Linked DNA regions of Homo sapiens: region 2 is linked to region 1. The links come from fine-mapping of genetic effects on gene expression. A gene starts in region 1. The other region holds a variant in brackets. All regions are shown on one strand. Distances are between the middles of the regions. Region 1 holds the start of RADIL (Rap associating with DIL domain). Region 2 overlaps RADIL (Rap associating with DIL domain).

What was found. PIP is the estimated chance that this variant, and not a neighbour inherited with it, causes the effect.
Region 2: its variant is fine-mapped to the expression of RADIL in lung (TOPMed, PIP 0.91).

The regions. Positions count from the first base shown.
Region 1 is chr7:4,882,441-4,885,444 of GRCh38, forward strand. RADIL (Rap associating with DIL domain) reads right to left here and starts at 1,276. Exons shown (of 15, transcript NM_018059.5): 1 at 1,156-1,276. RefSeq lists enhancers at 1-272, 2-690, 691-1,378 and a silencer at 1,088-1,307.
Region 2 is chr7:4,833,026-4,835,525 of GRCh38, forward strand. It overlaps RADIL (Rap associating with DIL domain), which reads right to left. Exons shown (of 15, transcript NM_018059.5): 4 at 1,582-2,214. Among named protein-coding and RNA genes, the nearest start is that of SNORD165, 3.2 kb to the right of the region's middle. The variant G/A (reference allele first, on the strand shown) is at 948.

The sequences.
Region 1 (3,004 bases):
TGCTCTTAGAGAATGTTTTCTCTTGTTCTCAAGGAAGGGTCCAGTTTCTGATGAAAAACAAGCTCAAGTCCCAGCGGCGAGTACAGGGAGTGAGGTCAGTGCTGCGCTGACGACATGGGTGGAGCGACCTCTCTGCTCCAACAGGACAATGTGGAACCCATTATCATTTCCAGCAGGAGGGAAAACGAAGCGCAGACTTTACACACTCAGCTCTCTCCCCTCCTTCCATGAATCCTATCTTTACAGCCCCAGCCCGAGCCACGCTTTCAAATGCAAACATAATTCAATCAGATTTAATTCTGACCTGCTAGCTGCTGGAGAGGAGACCGACTTGCCCCCCAGCAAAAGGGACTTTCAAGACTGGTTCCTGTCTGGAATGCACAAGAGGTGGCCTATATTAACCGCGGGACACGAGCAATCAGATTCTTCTGTGCAATTCAGATTAGCCAAACACTTGACAGGCGACAGGGCAGGGCAGGATGGTCCGCAGCCCCGCCAGGGCCCTGCCAACCCCACCAACAGGCTCCTCCTGCGAGGCCCCAGGAGCTCGGCTCAGCATCTGTTATCTTGGATGCAGTATTTGTCGAGGGGCTGGAAATGGTACATAAATAGCCGGGAAACAATGCTTTGAGCTGGCGCACGAGTGGGGATCGGGCTGCAACCGGGACGGGGTATGTGCAGGGGACGTCTCGCCGGCCCAGGTGGGAGAGCGCGCGGAACCCTGCGCCCCGCTCCCCCGCTGCGCCCCGCTCCCCCGCTGCGCGCCCCGGACGAAGCTCCCCCTCCAGGGCACAGCCGGGAAAACTGAGGGCCGAGAGTCCCCTGGAGTTGGGGGTCCGGGGCCCACGCGGACAGCCAGGCTCAGGAGCTCTCGGGGGTCGGCAGCGCGGACCCCCGGATCCCCGCAGGCTGGGCCGCCCTTGCCCGCGCTAGCCGGCCTCCGGGTACCGCCCCCCGGTCCAGGCCGGGGCCCGACAGCCAGTCGGTTCCCATGGCAACTGGGCAAACCTGCCCTCCGCGCCCCGACCAGCGGCCGGGAGTGTCCCCGAGCGCGCCCCGCGGCCTCCGCGCCCCAGGTCCCCGGCAGCGGCCGAGCAGCGCCCCTTACGAGCCACCCCCGGTTCCGCAGTCACTCCTCGCGCACCCCACACTCACCTCCGGCACAACCCGCCGCGCCGCCACGTTCCCGCGCTGCTCCCACCCGCCGTTGGCTGGGGCCGGCGCCCAGACCCGCGCGTGCCGCGGCGCCTCCTGCCGGCGGCGCAACGGGCGGGGCGGGGCCTCAAGGGGACGGGGCCACAAAGGGTGGGGCGGGGGAGAACAGGTGGGCTGGAGCTGGGCCTCGGCGCCCAATAGGCAGAAAGAAAGCCTCGAGGAGGCGGGGTCTCCAGGAGAGGGGCGGGGCCAACCTGCTAGAAAAGGCGGGCTGTGCTCTGGCGCCTCCTGCCGGCCGCCCAATGGACGGGGATGCAGCCTCGAGGGGGCGGGGCCTCACCGGAGAGGCGGGGTTTTGAAGAAAGGGGTGGGGCTGGTTGTGGAGAGGCGGGACTTGCAGCCCACCCACAGACTGCAGCTTAAGGAGGGGGGGTCCCCGGAGGAAGGGTGGGACCAGTTCTAAGTCCCTGAGCTGCTTGTGGGCTCTGGGCTCCTGCGGTTGGGTGGGCTATTTCGAGACAGCACCTTCTAGTAGCCCAGTGAGTGGGTGTAGGGGAGGGTAGAGCTGTGCCCCCAATTAATAAACATCTTCTAAGACATCGAAAAGGAACAAGGGAGGAATTTCCTCTCCCCTACCATCTGTCTCCCACCCAGAGTTTTAAAAGACAAATCAGGTCATGGCATTCCTGCTTACAATTATGCAAAAAAATGACCAGGTCAGCTCTGGGGCTCTGGCCCCAACTGCTCTCCCTGGGGACTTGTTTAAAAAGCAGCTCGTGACCTCGGCACTTTGGCTGGGGTTTTCCCTTTGAGGAATGTGGGCTAGACCTGGGAGATTCAGGTGGTTCGGAATATCAATATGCAGAATGTGGGCCTCGGGAGTGAACCTTTTTGTGGACAGCTATCGTGGTATGATTTCCGTAGTCATGACCCCATATTCGCGATGGAGGTCGGAGCAGACATTGATGAGTGTGGGAACAGACATTTATTGACCACCTGTGTGCCAGGCCCTAGGCAACTTTACCTAGGTCACCTCACTTAATGCTCACATCAATTCTTGTGAGACAGAGATGTCTGAGACATTCCAGGCCTCCCCTTTCCTCCACCTATCACCTGCTAATCCTAAAGTCCACCTCCTAAACCTTTTCTAATAAAAAATAGTGCCTCAAAGTCAACACAGAGAGACAGATTTGAGCCAGGCTCCTGTCTCCTTATTGATCAACTCACAATACGGACAAAAAAAGCTTTTGTCTCAAAAACTTAATGCAGTAAGATTGGCTTTTTTTTTTTTTTTTTTTTTTTTTTTTTTTGGAGACAGAGTCTTATTCTATTGCCCTAGCTGGAGTGCAGTGGTGTGATCTCAGCTCACTGCAACCACCACCTCCCAGGTTCAAGCGATTCTCCTGCCTCAGCCTCCCGAGTAGCTAAGGTTAACAGGCACCTACCACCACGCCCACCTAATTTTTGTATTTTTAGTAGAGACGGGGTTTTGCCATGTTGACCAGGCTGGTTTTGAAATCCTAACATCAGGTGATCCACCCACCTCAGTCTCCCAAAGTGCTGGAATTACAGGCATGAACCTCTGCACCTGATCAAGATTGGCTTCTAGCAGAGCAAGCGCAGAACCCTTTTGTTCAGTAATACTCCCATTTTTCAGATGAGAAAATAGAGACGCAGAGAGGTCAGGCTGCTGGAGGTAGAGACAAGAACTGAGCCAGGAATACAGGACCCTCTGTATACACACCAACCTCCTCGCCTACCCCAGGAAGGGATGCTTGAAAGGAATGACGTGCTTGAATATTTCATTCAGGTGCGCATGAAGAGACAATGGTCAGAGCTGAAGGAGAGC
Region 2 (2,500 bases), 50 kb before region 1:
TGGACCAGGCAATTCACCTCTGGGAGCCTCTGTTTCAGAGCCTGTAGCATAGGGGCAGGGTGAGCCCTGGTGTGCTGCAGGGAGTGGGCCAGCCACACAGCGAGCCCCAGGTGGCTGGGACACAGGCTGGGACCCGGGTCCCTCAGCAAGTGACTTACGGCCCCCTGGCTTCAGTTTCCCTGGCTGTGACATGGGGTGTGGCATCTACATCGTCAGGGTGGTTGTGATAAAGAAATTAAACAGCGTTTGGTTTGCAAGTAAGTGCCTGGCGCAGAGGAGACTCGGGAAATGACAATGATCGTGCGAAAACCCATGACTTCTGGCCAGCAGGTAACTCTCGGTCACAGTGGCCACGATGTGGACACACACTACAGGGACATCACCTGGCCCTGTGTCCATGACTGCACGGAGGGGACACGGGCACGCTGCAGTGGCACTCCCATCAAATCCCAAGCCGGGAACCCGAGGGGAAGAGGCACGGACACCCAGATTACAACACCCACGGTGCACAGAGACGGCTCCCACTGACATCTGGACAGGGAAGCCTGAGCTGGCTTTTACTTTTTAAAAGTCTCAGACATTTAAAATGTGGATTTCGATATGAGAAAGTGATAAGGTTTCTACACAGTCAAGTGGTTCCCCCTTCCCCTGTCTGCCGGGGATAAGCGGGGCCCAGACTAGCGAGGATCTGAGGGTCTCTGAACGAACTTGAACAACTACGAGTTGTCCTTCGGGTCCCTGGGAGCCAAGTCACTGTGGGGTGGGGCCCAGCGGGGGGCCATGACTGTGTGATGCCTGTTCCAGCACTCATGGGCCCAGGGCGGTCCTGCTCACTGGCGGCCACACTGGATTCCTGGGGACATTGGCAATGCCTGCAGCCATGGGTGTATTGCGTGTGTGTGTGTGGCGGGGCGGCAGAGGGTGACCGGCATCTAGGGGTGGAGGCC[G/A]GGGATGCTGCTGAATCCTCTGCAATGCACAGGCCAGCCTCACAGCAAGGAGCTCTCCTGCCACAGTGTCCACAGGGCCGGGGATGAGAGAGGCTGGCCTGGAGGAAAGTTCGTCAACGCACAAAAGGTGACGGGCCCTGCACCTCCAAACTCGGATCAGGGATGGCTCCAGCGGGTATGTGCTCAACCGGCCCCTGGCAGCAAGCACAGGGCGCCGGCACACACAGGGGCTTCTGGGGCTCTTGGGCAGGGGCCTGTGAGAGCTATCAATGTCACCTCGGCCTCGTGGTGCCCAGGCTCAGGGGCAGCTCACTCCTGGCACGTGACAGTGCTGGGCCCAGCTGGACCCCAGGGAGGGTACAAGCCCAGAGCTCAGGAGGTGACCTAGGACCCCACGCAAACCCCACCCTCAGGGGCAAAGGGCTGCAGCTGACACCTTGGGTTCTGGGGCTGCTTCTGGTGGCCTGTGGGGCTGGGGGGCAGCGACAGGCAGGGAAAGGCCGCCCTGCGCTCAGCAGCACAGCACCGTGGGGGTCAGATAGAGGCGCTCCCGCCTCCCAGCCGGGGCCAGCTCCGGGCCCCCTCTTCCCCCAGACCGGCACAGGACCCAGACCGCCCACCCCAGCACACTGACCCAGACAGTCTCGCGGATCAGCCTGGCTATCTTGAGCAGGAGCTGCCCGAATGTGCCCGGCTGGAAGTGGGTGGCCGAGTGCTGGATGCAGAGGCACAGGAGGAAGGCGGGGGTCAGCTTGTGGTCGTCGCCCCCCGGCTCGATCAACGTCATGATCCTCTGCAGCAGCGTGTCCTCCAGGTGGGGCTCAAACTCCAGGAGCAGCTGCTGGCGCCGGGGCAGGGCGGCCTGAGTAGGGGAGGCGGCTCCCCGGGCCCCGAGCGCGGCCCCGCACAGCCGGCAGCTCTGCGGCACAGCCCGGAGGCGCGCCAAGGCCCGGGCGGGCAGGGGCTGGGCCTGCGCGGGGTCCTTGAATAGCAGCAGGTAGTAGAGCCCCAGGGAGAGCAGGTCCCCGTGGTGCAGCACCACGGTCCTGTGCCCCACCTCGGAGAAGTTGACGGAGATGTGCGCCCCGGGGATGGGCTCCAGGACCAGCCTCCCCGCGGCCTGGCCGCTGTCCGGGAGCGGTTGCCGGCGGATGGTGCAGTGTAGAGGCAGGATGTCGGGGGCTGAGAGGCTGATGCTGGGCTTGCTGGAGGGGGTCCGCTGGCCCACCGTGTGCCGGTCCCGGTTGAGCACATACACCAGGCTGTCCTGAAACAGAGACTCCGCTCAGGGCAGGCGTAACGCGAGCAGCACACGGGAAAAGCGTCCCGTGTCTAGTCACTGGTTGCTGAAGCAGCGTGGCTGGGATGCTGTCGCCACGGGCTCTCCATGTCCCTGGCCACCCCCACACCAGAACCCCGACGGCTCTCAGGAACCCGCCCCTCGATGTCCGGGCCCATCCCAGAGGAGGTCGGTTTCCCGGAGGAGCACACGAGAGACCCAGGAGACACCCAGCTTTGAGACAGCGACAGGCCAGGTCAGGGCTGGCCGGGAA